Linked DNA regions of Homo sapiens: region 1 is linked to region 2. The links come from fine-mapping of genetic effects on gene expression. Tissue or cell type: sun-exposed skin. Region 2 holds a variant in brackets; the other region holds the start of a gene. All regions are shown on one strand. Distances are between the middles of the regions.

Region 1 (7,550 bases), 44 kb before region 2:
GGGATGTTATTTACCCTCAAAAAGGAAGGAAATTCTGACACGTGCTGCAAGAATGAGACTTGAGGACACTGCACTAAGTAAAATAAGCCAGACATCAGGACAAAAGGACAAAGGCTGTGTGATTGCGCTTACGATGAAGTACCCGGAGTAGCCGCGTGTATAGAGCAGAAAGTGGAAGGGGCTGGGCGCAGGGAGGAATGGGATGTTACTGTGTAGTGAGGACAGTTTCAGTTTTACACGATGAAAAATTTCTGAAAATGGACGGTGGGGGCGGTTGCAGAGCGTGAATGTGCTTAGAGCCACTGACCGGTACACTTAGAAATGGCTAAGATGGTAATTTTCATCTCGTGTAATTTTCATCTTGTATTTTACCATAAAATACAAATCTATGAGTCCTTAATAATCAAGAGAGAAGGCCAGGTGCAGTGGCACACACCTGTAATCCCAGCACTTTGGGAGGCCAAGGTGAGAGGATCACCTGAGGTCGGGAGTTCGAGACCAGCCTGACCAACATGGCAAAACCCTGTCTCTACTAATAATACAAAATTAGTCAGGCGTGGTGGCACATGCCTGTAATCCCAGCGACTCAAGAGGCTAAGGCGGGAGAATCGCTTGAACCTGGGAGGTGGAGGTTGCGGTGAGCCAAGTTCCTGCCATTGCACTCCAGCCTGGGCAACAAGAGCAAAACTCCGTCTCGAAAAAAAAAAAAAAAAAAGCCAGGCGTGGTGGCTCACGCCTGTAATCCCAGCACTTTTGGAGGCTGAGGCAGGCAGATCATGAGGTCAGGAGTTCGAGACCAGCCTGGCCAACATAATGAAACCCTATCTCTATTAAAAGATACAAAAAATTAACTGGGTGTGGTGGCACACACCTGTAATCCCAGCTACTTGGGAGGCTGAGGCAGGAGAATCACTTGAACCAGGCAGGCGGAGGTTGCATGAGCCGAGATTGCACCATTGTACTCCAGCCTGGGCGACGGGACCGACAGGGATCTGGGCATCTGCCCGCCACACCTGTCCTCCTGGGAGGCTGGGAGGCCTGGGGCCCCCACTCTCAAAGCCTACCCTTCCGGCCACTGTCTCTCTACAGTTATAGAGCAAAGGCCCCCGACCCAACCCTGCCGCCGTCACCAGAGGAGCAGCCCCACAAGCCCCCACAGCGTGGTCACACCTGGCTTGGGGGACAGCCGCACCCCACATGCAAGGTAGCCCTTGGGAACTTCTGCTCCAGATGCACCAGGTGGGGAAGGCCAGAGCTGGCCATTCAGGGTTTTTTAGGGCCAGACAAGAGCAAGGCCCTGTGTCTGCCCGGGAGGTAGAGCAGACCACACTGGCCCCATGCACAGGGGCTCTTTGGGTCCCTCGTCCCATCTTTCCAGCTCCTTCCAACTTTGCCCCCTGGACATTTCTTGCTCTGACCCTCCCTTCCCTTATTCCTGGCCTTGTCTCCCCCTGGGCCCAGGCCTTCCCAGACTGACTGGACAAATTAGCAAGCAATCACCAGCTTTGGCTTCTGCAGGGTCCAGACAGGCCAGGAGAACGGCTGGTGAACCCACCGGACAGCAGGGCGGTTTCTGGTGCACACATCGGGATGTGAAGTTGTACCCCATGTCTGCAGCTTGGACCTCACCACTGCTGTGTCTGGGCCGCAGGGAGCTGTTCTGGCACGTGACTCAGCCGTGGGATGTTCGGGTGACTTCCTGTCTGAAACCTGCTCTCCTGTTGGTGAGGGATTCTCTGGGTATGAATCGCTTTGCTGGGGTCAGAGCAGGGAGAGCCATCTCCCTGACGGGCTTCTCAGAGACAACACCCCAGGTGCCGCACAGCCCGGGGCAGCCTCCACTGGTCCCGAAGGCCCGGTGGGAATAGGCAGGGCCAGTCCACACCCCCAGGCTGTCAGTGTTTGGACTCCCAGGCTCCTGCCTGCCCTCCACCCCAGCCTGGCTTCTCCACCTGGCAGGGGCAGGGGAGCCGGTACACGGCTGCCAACCCCCCAGTTCATACCCACAGCTCCTGCCACCCAAGGGACCCAACTTTCCTTTCCCAGACCCCAGTGAAGGACCCAAAGAGAGGATTCAACTGACCTCACTTGAATCGGCTATTCCCGGACTGCCTGGCAAAGGCCAGAAGGCATGGAGGGTGACAATGGCCTGAGCCGGGTCCGCATGTCACTCCTGGACCCCTCACCGGGGGCGCAGAGGAGGCCTGGTGAACGTGACAGACCACCCAGTGGGGCGCAGGACGGGGCAGGTCCTAGGAGGCTGCTGGGGCCAGCGACAGGAACCCACAGCTGTCCCTGGCCATCACCCCCACTGGCCTGATGTGGGCTTCGTCTATTGCTGCTCCGAGGGTGGGGCTGCCCTGGCCCAAAGACCCGGGAGGCCAGTGACCCCATGAGCAGTGGCCTGTGGAGGCGTGTGTTTGCACCAGATCCCCTAGAGGATCACTGTCCCCTGGGCAAGTGTTTCTGGAAAGCCAAGGTAGGCCCTGCCCTGAGACCTGCGCCTCCCCGCCAGGGCAATGGGAAAGCCCAGCTTTCCAGGGACTCCACTGCCACCCACACAAAACCCTCTGAAATCGCTGTTCGGAGGCAGCCTCCAGCCATGCGGCCCTGCAGCAGGGGGCAGCTGTGATCCACGTGTCTGGGGGAAAGTGTAGACTGGGGGCTCGGCCTCCACCGGCCTCTCCTGGCCGTGGGTGTACCCACCCAGGATGGCGGCTTCTTCGCTCAGTGACCGTCCCTGCTGCGGTGCTGGGCAGTGTCGCTTGGAGACATTTGTGGTCCCCAGCTCCTTCCCTCAGCCCGGCCCTGTCCCCACTGCTGAAAGAGCCTGGCTTGGATGGAGCTTGGCAGGCTCGGGAGTGGGCACCAGGGTGGGTCTGTGCCCTGAAACTCAGAAGCAGCCTGGAGGTGAGTGGAGTTGTAGGTGCTGTCCACAGCCAGCTGGCTTTGTCCAAGGAAACTGGGCCCATCATGGCCGGAAGCCCCACAGTGAGGGGGACTGTCCCAGGCAACCCTGCCTGCCCACCCTCCAGTTCCCACAGGGCCCCTCACAGAGAAGCCCACCCGCAGGGCTCCTGGGCCAGGCCAGGCTTGGTTCTGGATGCAGGAGGGGTTGAGGTAGGGCTGGGGGAGGAATGTGGAGTGTGCAGTAGGCTGTTCTTCCCACACGGCCCTGCCCCATGTAGGAAGAGGGAGGCGGGGAGGGGAGGGTGCTTGTGTGCAGTGGCTGTGCCGAGCCTTCCAGGACATGCAGGTGCCATCCTGGTCCCGGGGCTGCAGTGGGCGCACTCAGCCTCTCTACTCCTGGCACCCCGGACAGGGACTCCTGGGAGGACACAGCCTCTGGGAAGTCACCCTGCTCCGTGCTTGCCTGGCCCGAGAGTGGGCAACACCAGGCCTGAGCTGCAGAGGAGCTGGATTTTGTCTTTCCAGGACCCCTCCCTGCAGCCTTTCCAGGACCCCTGTCCTGCCTTGCCTGTCTGGGGACACACGGACAGCCGCTGTGCCGCGCCAGGCCCCAGCACCTGCCTGGGAGCTCCTGAGTGAGTGGAGCCTGGCTCTGAGTGCTGCTATTGCTAAAAGAGGTAAGACTGGGGTTTCCTGCCACTCCCTCCCTCAGGAAGGTGACGAGGCCATGCTGTCATCACCAGTAAGATACCCCAGCCCGGTTGGCTAACCCCTAGCTCAGCCCTGTTTGTGGTTAGGGGAGTTCTAGACAGAACATAATTAGACCCCTGCTACTTCCTGAAACCTCAGCTAGGACTGCAGGGAGGGGTGCGAGGCTAGCCACGCAGGCGGGGCCCTGGGTAAGTCGCTGGGCTCTGCGTGCTGGGGAGTGGGCCTGGGGGGCCAGGCTCTGGGATGGGGCTGGGGGCTGGGAGCTGGAGGCGGGCAGAGGGGGATCTGAAGGCAAAGGTGATTTGTTGGTAAAGATGGAGGCTTTGTTGAGGGTTCTTAATCTGGGGTCCCTCCCGAGAGAACCCAGGACCCCCAGTGACCACAGATGTGATGGGGCCGGAGGATTTGGGGGAGAGGGACAACAGTTTCCATTGTATCTTTGTCACCGCCACCTTCCTGGAGACTTTCTTCTGGAAAAGGCTTCCCTGGCTACTGGTCCAGATGGGGGTGAGTCAGGGGGCTGGACTTTGTCCCTGGAATCTCTCCTTGGCCACTTGCTTCCGTGATTGGTCGGGGGGCACTGAAGGGCTGGGCTTCTCTCTGTGGGGCCTGTGCTGCTTGTGGGGTTACACAGAGGGAAAAGCAGGGCAGTGGGGGCTGTGCTGCGGTGAGTGGCAGTTGGCCCAGTCACGTGACAAGATCCTGGAGCTGGGCAGGTCACCGGCCTTTGGAGTGGCGTTCGGCGCACCAGGCACAGCGGGGCGGGGGGCCCAATACCTTCTGTCAAGTGCATGACGTGGGTCTGTACCACTGCAAGGGACTGGGACTGACCACTGAAGACTGGCCAGTTGGGCTGAGCACAAAATGATATTTCAGGAGATTGGCCAGGCCGAGGTGGGAGAGCAGAGGCTCCTGGAAGAAGATGAGGATAGGGGCTGGGCACGGTGGTTCATGCCTGTAATCCCAGCACTTTGGGAGGCCGAGGTGGGCGGATCACTTGAGGTCAGGAGTTTGAGACCAGCCTGACCAACATGGTGATACCCTGTCTCTACTAAAAATACAAAAATTAGCCGGGCGTGTTGGCACACGTCTGTAATCCCAGCTACTTGGGAGGCCGAGGCAGGAGAATCGCTTGAACCTGAGAGGCGGAGCTTGCAGTGAGCCGAGATCGCGCCATTGCACTCTAGCCTGGGCAACACTATCAAATTGGGAAAAATAAGAAAGTTGACAATGGGCTTTGGATGGGTGTGGTGGAGCAGGGAGGTTGGAGCTGGTGACTCCACATTTCCCTCCCTAGGGTTTGTCTCAAACGTGACGGCAGAAAAGAGGTCATAGGTTTGCCTGGTGCCAAAGCAGGTGGGAGTAAAAGACGGAAATGGCTAGGAATGGCCAGCAACCGTGAAACAGCTTAGAAATTACAGGCAATCCAGCCAGGTGCGGTGGCTTACGCCTGTAATCCCAGCACTTTGGGAGGCCAAGGCAGGTGGATCACCTGAGGTCAGGAGTTCGAGACCAGCGTAACCAATATGGTGAAACCCTGTCTCTACTAAAAATACAAAATTAGCCGGGCGTGGTGGCACACGCCTGTAATCCCATTTACTTGGGAGGCTGAGGCAGGAGACTCACTTGAACCCAGGAGGTGGAGGTTGTGGTGAGCCGAGATCGTGCCATTGCACTCCAGCCTGGGCAACGAGAGCGAAACTCTGTCTCAAAAAAAAAAAGAAAGAAAGAAATTACAGATAGTCCACAAGACAGACCTCAGCAGCCTGAGGAGCTGTTTTTGACAAATGGGCTGGAATGAGGAACTGCTCCCTGCACATGGCAGGGGCCAGGGCTCCTTCTCTGTCCTTTTGTGTCTGTCTGAAAAGTTCCATCATAAGTTACAAAACAGGCTGGGCGTGGTGGCTCACACCTGTAATCCCAGCACTTTAGGAGGCCGAGGCGGGCGGATCACCTGAGGTCAGGAGTTCAAGACCAGCCTGACCAATATGGCGAAACCCCTTCTCTACTAAAAATACAAAAAATTAGCCGGGCATGGTGGCAGGCGCCTGCTAATCCCAGCTACTTCAGAGGCTGAGGCAGGAGAATCACTTGAACCCGGGAGGCAGAGGTTGCAGTGAGCCAAGATCGTGCTATTGCACTCCAGCCTGGGCAACGAGAGAGAAACTCAGCCTAAAAAAAAAAAAAAAGTTACAAAATAGATTTTAAAAGACTGGAGGAGCACAGCAACTTGCAGGCCAGAGAGCTCCAGGGACAGTGGCTGGGTGAGGTCATGCTAGATCCTGTTATTGAAATGTCCATCCCAGGAACATGTGGTGCTTCTCTAATCTGGAAAATGGATTCATTGGCCGGGCATGGTGGCTCACGCCTGTATTCCCAGCACTTTCGGAGACCGAGGCCGGCGGATTTCTTGAGCCCAGGAGCTCGAGACCAGCCTGGGTAACATAGGGAAACCTCGTCTCTAAGAATAAAAGTACAAAAATTAACTGGGCATGGCAGCAGGTGCCTGTAGTCCCAGTTACTCGGAAGGGAGGATGATGTGAGCCTGGGAGGTGGAGGTTTCAGTGAGCAGAGATTTTGCCACTGTACTCCAGCCTGGATGAGGGAGCAAGACCCTGTCTCCAAATAAATAAATAAACAAACAAACAAACAAATAAAGCAAGAGAGAGAGGGAGAGGGTTAGGGAGAGAGAGAGAGAACAATTTTAATAGTATTTAAAGAAAAAAAAGCTGGGCGTAGTGGCTCACACCGTAATCCCAGCACTTTGGGAGGCTGAGGCAGGAGGATCATTGGAGCCCAGGAGTTCAAGACCTGCCTAGGCAACATGGCAAAACCCTGTTTCTACTAAAAATACAAAAAAAGTAGCTGGACGTGGTGGTGTGCCTGTAGTCCCAACCACTCGGGAGGCTGAGGCAGGAGAATTGCTTGAACCTGGGAGGTAGAGGTTGCAGTGAGCCAAGATCGCGCCACTTTACTCCAGCCTGGGCAACAGAGCAAGACTCCATCTCAAAAAAAAAAAAAAAAAAGAAAAGAAAAGAAAAGAAAGAAAAGAAAGAAAAGGCAAAAAAGGCAAAAGAAAAAAAGAAAGAGAAAACATGGGTTCATGGAAGAAGCACGGAAAGTGTGAGGCAGAGCAGCCTCGGAGCTGACACGCTGAGTGGGAGAAAGGCGGGTTGGACACAGGAGAGAGAAGTCCAGGGAGCAGTGGAGGGCTGGCCTCAGTGGGCTGCCAAGGTGTGGCTTGAAGATGGAGCTGGACAGGGACACATTTGCCCAGCATGGAGGCTGGGTGATGAGGGGCTTGGTCATTTGCTGATGTGAGGTGGAGGCAGGGGCCCAGGGCCAGCAGGGACAGGAGATGCAGCTGGAGCTCAGGGATGGGTGGACGGGGGTGTCAGGCTGACCTGGGCCCACACACACTGTGGTCTTGTGGCTGGAGTCATCCGAGGGACCTCACCATGGCCATCATGTCTGGCCACGCTGCCCTGAATCCAGTTGGAGTTGGATGGTGATAGCGGGGCCTCTGCCTGTCATAGTCCCTCAGAGCAGATCAAGAACAGAGTCCCCTGGAGTCCACCAGGCCAGGCTGGCATTGCTGGTGCTGTGAGCATGGTGGGCTATCCCCTACCCAAGCCTCCGGCAGGCTGGGAGCACCTTGCTGCTGTTTCAGAAGTGAAAGTCTGCACCGGGGACCTTTCCCACAGGGCTCAGTCACTCCCACCCACCCCACAGCTGAGAGGAGCCCCACTGGTGGGCCAGACAGCTGGGGCGATGAGAGGAAGGGACGGTCCCCATGCACAGCCCAGGAGGGACTCCCCCCCCCCAGGAGGGTGGTGCCTGCTTCCTGAGTGGAACAACACAGGAAGCCTCTGCCTGGCCTTGTCCTTCCACTTGAAGACCCAGCCCCAGGGGAAGCTGAGAGAGGGCCC
Region 2 (7,550 bases):
TAAAAATACAAAAATTAGCCAGGTATGGTGGTGGGCGCCTGTAATCCCAGCTACTAGGGAGGCTGAGGCAGGAGAATCGCTTGAACTCAGGAGGCAGAGGTTGCAGTGAGTTGAGAGCATCACACCATTGCACTCCAGCCTGGGCGACAGAGTGAGATTCTGTCTCAAAATAATAGTAACAATAATAATGTCCTCCAGGGAATTGTCTTCTCGTGTCCACACTGGCCCTAGGCTTGGCCACATGTGGTTTGGCCACCTGGACATTGGCACATATGAGCAGAGCAGAGGGAAGTATAAAAAGAGCCCCTGTATTGGTGCCTGCCTGGGCTGGCCTTCCGGAGGATGACAGAGCAGAGATGAGTCAGTCATCTCTGCCAAGACCCAAACACTTGAGTGAGCTCAGCTGATGCCTCATGAGACACAGGATGCTGTGACCCCAGCCGAAATGCCAACCGCAGAAATGCCAGCAAACAAAAGGCTGCCTTTTGAATCTACTAAGTTTGGGAAAGTGTGTCACACAGCAAAAGGTAACTGATATAGAGGTGGGTGTCCTCCTTAATACTTTTCTTTTTTCTTACTTTATCTATAGGGTAGCCTTCCACATGTATTTCTCTAGATTTTTATTTTATTTTTTATGTTTATTTATTTATTTTTTGAGACAGAGTCTCACTCTGTCGCCCAGGCTGGAATGCAGTGGTGCAATCTCAGCTCACTGCAACCTCCGCCTCCTGTGTTCCAGCAATTCTCCTGCCTCAGCCTCCCGAGTAGCGGGATTACGGGTACATGCCACCACGCCTGGCTAATTTTTGTATTTTTAGTAGAGACGGGGTTTCACCATGTTGGCCAGGCTGGTCTCGAACTCCTGAACTCAGGTAACCCGCCCACCTCAGCCTCCCAAAGTGCTGGGATTACAGGCATGAGCCACTGTGCCCGGCCATTTCTCTAGATTTTTAATAGCATTTTGTGAGGTTTCAAAAATATCCTGGGATTTTGCCTGGCAATAGAATAAATGTATATATTCATTTGGGAAGTAAATGAACTCTGGACTCAGGCCCAGTGACACATTTTCACCAGCAATACCACTATGACTCCACTAAGAGAACAACTGGAGTCTCCGCATGGCCTCTCCTGGCCGCTGCCCCATGCACCTCTTCTCTTGGTTAATTTTAATGAGCCTTTTCATGGTAATGAACCATAACCACGAGTACAATAGCTTCTAGGGAATTCTCTGAGTCCTTCTAATGAATTTCAAACTTGAGGGTGGTCTTGGGGCTGTCCCTAACTTTGTACTTGTATATTTAGTTTGCTAAAGATTATACCATGAAGGGGTGTTGAATTTTACTAGATGCTTCTACACTGAGATTTTCATACTTTTTTTCTCCTTCATTCTATTGTCATGAATCATGTTGACCTTGCAATGTGAAATCAACTGTACTCCAGTTCCTGGAGTACACCCAACTTGGTTGTGATGAGTTACCTTTTTTACATTATCATTGGATCTGATTTGCTAATATGTGGTTTGGAATTTTAAACAATGTTCATGAGAGAGAATACCATGTGTGTTTTCTCCCATCATGTCCCTTTCGAGTTTTAGTATCAAATTTGTTAGCCCTGTAGAACAAATTGGTAAGAAGAGTTCCCCTTTATCATTTGGAAGACTCTGTGTAAGACTGATGCTCTTTCTTCAATTTGAGTCTTTTTTTTAACGGATTCTAGTTCTCCTTGTCATCAATTTTCCTGAATACATTAGTTACTGAAAAATATGACTCCAATCTTGGTGTAACCATAGACTTCTATGTTTTTTCTGGTCCTATGTCCTAGCAAGCCTGTTAATATTTTATGACTACAGTTAACAGTAACTTACTGCATATTTTCTAATAGGTAGAGGAGAGGATTTTGAATGTTCCCAACACAAAAGAAATGATGTTTGAGGTGATGGATATGCTAACTACCTTGATGGATCATTATACTTTGTATATACATGTCAAAATATCACACCAAATCTCATCTTGAATTGTAGCTCCTATAATTCCCATGTCGTGGGAGGGACCCGGCAGGAGGTAACTGAATCATGGGGCAGGCTTTCCTGTTCTGTTCTCCGGATAGTGAATACATTTCCTGAGATCTGACGGTTTTATAAAGGGGAGCTCCCTGCACACGCTCTCTTGCCTGCCGCCGTGTAAGACGTCCCTTCGCTTTTCCTTTGTCTCCTGCCATGATTGCGAGTCCATTAAACCTCTTTTTCTTTATAAATTACCCAGTCTCGGGTATGTCTTTATTAGCAGCATGAGAATAGACTAATATGCTCTGGAAGATATTATCTTACTCCAGACATTATTTTAGATCTTTGCCAATTTGACCCGTGGCAAACAGCACTCCAGCATAGCTTTAATTTCCACTGCTCTTGTTCTGATTGGGGCTGAGCATCTATTCGCCTGTATAGGAGCATTTGTATTTTCTTTGCTCTGAACTGTGTTTATATTCTACGCCCACTTTTCTTTTCTTTTTTTAAGAGATGGGGTCTCACTCTGCTGCCCAGGCTGGAGTGCAGTGGTGCAATCATAGTTCACTGCAGCCTCCAACTCCTGGGCTCAAGGGATTCTCTCACCCCAGCCTCCTGAGTAGCTGGGATTACAGGTGGGTGCCACTATTTCCAAACCACTTTTCTTTGGTGATCTAGATTTCATTTGCATTTGCAGAATATCTGTATATTAAGGAATTTAACCTTTATGTGGGATACAGCCAGGAAAAACTTTTTTCCCCATTTGTCTTTTCACTTTGACATGCATAAACTTTAAATTCTCAGGTAGTCACCTTTATCAAGTCCCATTTTCTTTTACCTGGGCAGTAACCTAATGGGATTTTCTACTTCCAGCCTTCCTGCCACCTCCTCCAAATCTATTACCAACAGTGATTCTTGGTGGTTGTGGTGCCTCATGCCTGTAATCCCAGAACTTTGGGAGGCCAAGGTAGGAGGATCACTTAAGGCCAGGAGTTGGAGACCAGCCTGTGTAACAAGACAATACCCTGTCTCTACAAAATTACCAAAAAAAAAAAAAAAGTTAGCTTGGTGTAGTGGCACACTTCTGTAGTCCCAGCTACTTGGGAGGCTGAGGCGTGAGAATCACTCGAGCACAAGAGTTCGAGGATACAGTGAGCCATAATCACGCCACTGTTGTCCAGCCTGGGCGAAAGAGACCCCCTTTTTTTTTTTTTTAAATAAGAACAGTGATTCTTTTCAAGCACAATTCAGATTCCAGTTCCTTCTCTGCTGACCATGCCAGTAGTCTCCATCCCACTCCCAGAATAGCCCAAAAGTCCCTCCACCCCTCACACTTAAAACTTTCCCACGAGATCACAGGGTTCTTTCTCACTGCACTGAGACGTGCTCCTGCCTCCTGCCCCTGCCTCGGGCTTTGCCCCAGCCATTCCTCTCCTGAATTCTCGTCCACTCTTCCTTTTGGTGCTTTAAGACGCTCCTTATCCTAGAGACCTATGTGAGCAGCGCCCCCACGTCACTCCCAGGTTTCCCGACAGCATTTCAGCATTTACCACCGACCTTGGCGCATCCGCACCTGCGGATTGATCTGAGGATTCCCCCCCAACTTCCAGCACTTGGCTCTCAGCTGCAGCCACGCCTGCCGGGCCTGCTGCAGGCGCTCAGGGTATTACTTAAGTCAATGATTGCAGGTTCTCGCATCCTATTTAAAACCTTTTCCACTAAGAGATTTAAAACACGTGTCCCCTGCTTTGAACTTTCACGTTACATTTCTTACGTGTAAACCTAGGAAGCCTTTGGAGATAACCCCGGTCTCTGGAGAGGCTTGGATAGACCTCGGAGCCCAGACCGCCCGGGAATTGCCGTGCCCGGCTCCTCCCGACCCCGGCACGGATGCCTCGGCGGAGAAGTTGAGCCAGGCAGAAGCGAGAGAGT[C/A]CAAACCTCTGTTTGCCCCGCCACGCCCGCCCGAGGGCCCCACGTGGGCCCCAGGCGCAGGCGCGTTCAGTTCAGGGCCAGACGCGCGGAGACCTGGGAGCTGGCGGGGCGGGGCCGGACTGGGCGCGGGGAGACCTGGGAGCCGGCGGGGCGTGGGCGTGGCGGGGCCGGGCGCAGGGGCGGGGGCGGGGCAACCGAGGGCGCGCGCGAGCCCCAACGGCCGTCGCCGCAGCGCGGGAAGACGCGCCACAGATGCCCCGCCCGCGTGGGTTTGAACAAGAGGCCCCGCCCCCGGCCCGCGAGTGGCCAATCAGCGGGCGTAGCGCGCGGAGAGCGCAGCGTCGACCCTTTGTGGACGCCGAGTGGCGGTCGCTCGCCCCGCCCCGCGCCGTCGGGCGCTCCTTCCTCAGCGGCGGGAAGCTGGCGGCAGCGGCGGTGGCGGTGGCTGAGCAGAGGACCCGGCGGGCGGCCTCGCGGGTCAGGTGAGCGGGCCCGGCGGACCGCTAGGGCGTCTACGGCGGCGTGCACTTTTGTGCTGCAGGGCGCGGAGGAGCCTGGGGGCGGTGCGCGGAGTCTGTGGCTCCTGGCGCTGGGTCCGGGGCGGAGGCGGCGCCCGGGACCACCGCTGGGGCTGCCGCGGCGCCCTCGCCGCCCTCCTGGGCGCTGGTTCCCCCGCGGGGTGGCCGCTGCTGAGGGGGCCCGGGGAACAGAGGGGCCCGGGCCGCCGTCTGCGTTCCTTGCGGAGCGCGGAGCTGGGGCTTTGCCGAGGCCTGCGGGCGGCCCCACGCGGGAGCCGCTTCACGAGGGCCCGGCTGGGGTACGCAGCGGCGTTTCCCGTACCTCGGCTCTAGTTGCAGCGGAGGGAACGCCAGGCGCGCCGCAGCCCCCTCTGTCGGAGCCCGGCCGCGGAGAGGGCCGCGGATGTGGGAGGAGGCCCAGACCCCGGGCGGGTCGGCCAGCGCCGTCTTCCCTGGGCTCCTCCGGCGGTGCGAGGTGGGACTAGGGAAAGTCCCCGAGACACTTGCAGAAGTCAGACGCAAGCCTCCCTCCGCGTCTTCAGACGCTTCTCGCCCCGCAAACAGGATCGTCGTGGCAAAGGCTCCGACAGCTTGCTGGAATAGAGGGTCTCCGCTGCCTCGCTTCTCCTGTGGCCTTCGTGTGGGACGCACGGGACGGCGGGACCCAGATAACCGTTCTCTCAAAGCGAGCCACAGAAAAACATTGCCTGTTCACAAAACTTACGTTTTATCAACTTTCTACGTACAACCACTCTATTTTCAAGTGTCACCGTGTTTTATAATTAGGGTGGAAATCCAGAATACAAAGTGAGTTACACCCCTTTTCTAGGAAGAGTAGTAGGCTGTATCTTGGAAAAGGGGCTAGGAAGTTTCCCTCAACTTGCCACTGGAACATGTTTTCAGGGAAAAGAAGGAGTGTGTTTCGTTCCAAGTAACAAAAGTACCTGCAATTGGCTGGGCGCGGTAGCTCACACCTCCCAGCACTTTGAGAGGAGGCCTAGGCGGGTGGATCTCCTGAGGTCCCGAGTTCGAGACTAGCTGGCCAACGTGGTGAAACCCCGTCTGTACTAAAAATACAAAAATTAGCTGGGCGTGATGGCGCATGCCTGTAATCATAATCCTAGCTATGTGGGAGGCTGAGGCAGGAGAATCGCTTGAACCAGAAAGGCAGAGGTCTCAGCCGAGATCGTGCCATTGCACTCCAGCCTGGGCGACAGAGCGAGACTCCGTCTCAAAAAACAAAAAAAACCAAATACCTGAAATTAACATAACAGTAATTGTTCATGAACAGCCTCCAGGAGACTTGTAGTGGAAGGTGGAGCTCCCACTCAGTACTCAAGACTGCAGACCTTGCTCCTCTTCTCCCTGTTTTTCCGATAAAGTATTTCAAAGCTTATCTGATGTGTGAGGAATGGAAATTGTTGATGATTTGCTTAAAAACCCGAAACTTTGAAGTGGCTGCAAGTCCAGCTGTGAAGGTGACAGGTTAGGTCAGAGTTGAGTCTGTCCCCAACCGTCCCAGCCCTACTGATCAGAATCTGGGAATCTGCGTTTTCAGCCAGCCTCGTGGTATTGCTCAGCCACGAAGGTGTGGCCACTGCTGCTGTAGTGAAGGACCAGTCCCCGAGCTGTACTCTGCTTGCCTGAGCAGCACTGCGGGGCTGCTCCCTGCTGGCCTCTGCCTCGGTGGGCCTAGGTTGCTCTGTCCCTAGTGGCCTGTTGGCTGTTCCACCTGCCATGTCGGACATGTCCTCAGTCCGTCTGGCCCTCTTCGTTTTTCTCTGTCTGGTCGGTGCTTGGTTTAGAAGCCTGAGGGCAGTGCTGGGAGTTGACTGAGGGCTTGGCTGTCCCGGTAACAACCTGTGGAGTTGGTGGGATTTTAGGCATTTAACTAGATGTGTAGAAAGAGCTTCAAAACTGAGCAGGGGGCCAGGCATGGTGGCTCACGCCTGTAATCCAGCACTTTGGGAGGCCGAGATGGGCGGATTGCCTGAGTTCAGGAGTTCGAGATCAGCCTGGCCAACATGGTGAAACCCCGTCTCTACAAAAAATACAAAAATTAGCCGGGTGTGGTGGCGCGTGCCTGTAGTCCTAGCTACTCGGGAGGCTGAGGTAGGAGAATCGCTTGAACCTGGGAGGTGGAGGTTGCAGTGAGCTGAGATTGCATCACTGCACTCCAGCCTGGGGGACAGAATGAGACTCTGTCTTAAAAAAAAAAAAAAAAATTGAGCAGGGAGCTAGGCTCCACAGCCCCACCGGTATGGTATAGGGCCCTTTCTCATTCCATATTAGAAGGAGTTAAGCAGCCTCAGGCAGAAGTCACACAGGAGGCCCTCAGGGAGCTGGGCCCAGCCCAGGCATCCCTCGGGGCTGGTTAAGACCATGCTCTTGCTGACTTTGTCCCAAACACAGATATAACCCAATTCAGGGTGATCCTCACAGGCCAGCTTCTCCGGGCCCAACCTTATCCTCTTCACTCCTGAACACATGTTCTGGGTGACAGCTCTTTGGGGTCACGTGACTGTAAAAAGCACCTGTGAGCTTTACTCTTTTTTGTATTAATAGTAATAAACTTGTCAGCATTTTAAAATATTGGGTACAACACAGAATTAACAGCTGCTGGAGATTTGGAACATTGGAGAGGAATGATTTGAAGTGACTGAACAGGGATATTCTCCTGGTACCAGAATGGGATCTGTGCATGGGATGAGATGCAGTGGAGGATGATGGGGATTATCTCTCGTCCCTTGTAGAACTTGTGTAACCCAGGCACATCTATGCAGGTCCCTGGGTTACACAAGTCCTACAAGGGGCGAGAGAGAATCTCCATCATCCTGGAGGATTCTTTCTGGCCCCTTGTAGCATTTCCCACCCTGATGGTGGCTACCCTTCTGTGTTTTCACAACTTAGATTAGCTTTGCCTGTCCTGAAGGTTCAGATCAATAGAATCCTACGGTACATATTTTTGTGTGTGTCTTGCTGCTTTTATTCAGCATAATGTTTTGAAATTTATCCGTGTTGCATAAATCATTGAGGTATGTTGCTGAGTTGCATTCCTTTGTCAGAATACACCAGATCGTATACATTCAACTTGTTTT

Direction of the effects. Positions count from the first base shown, and alleles are read on the strand shown. Sizes are in standard deviations (SD) of each study's normalised expression.
With allele A in place of C in region 2, the expression in sun-exposed skin of the gene that starts at base 3,758 in region 1 is lower (moderate effect, 0.71 SD a copy in GTEx).

The links. PIP is the estimated chance that this variant, and not a neighbour inherited with it, causes the effect.
Region 1: it holds the start of GPR132, and the variant in region 2 is fine-mapped to the expression of GPR132 in sun-exposed skin (GTEx, PIP above 0.99). The same link has a PIP of 0.9 or more in unexposed skin.

What each region holds. Positions count from the first base shown.
Region 1 is chr14:105,061,638-105,069,187 of GRCh38, reverse strand. GPR132 (G protein-coupled receptor 132) reads left to right here and starts at 3,758. Exons shown (of 4, transcript NM_013345.4): 1 at 3,758-3,809. RefSeq lists enhancers at 2,610-2,679, 2,890-3,059, 2,735-3,252, 4,930-5,069, 5,180-5,279 and 3 more.
Region 2 is chr14:105,017,865-105,025,414 of GRCh38, reverse strand. It overlaps CDCA4 (cell division cycle associated 4), which reads left to right and starts at 4,332. Exons shown (of 2, transcript NM_017955.4): 1 at 4,332-4,416. RefSeq lists enhancers at 3,537-3,596, 3,612-4,125, 4,640-5,155, 5,607-6,267 and silencers at 3,897-3,966, 3,997-4,886, 4,897-4,986. The variant C/A (reference allele first, on the strand shown) is at 3,935.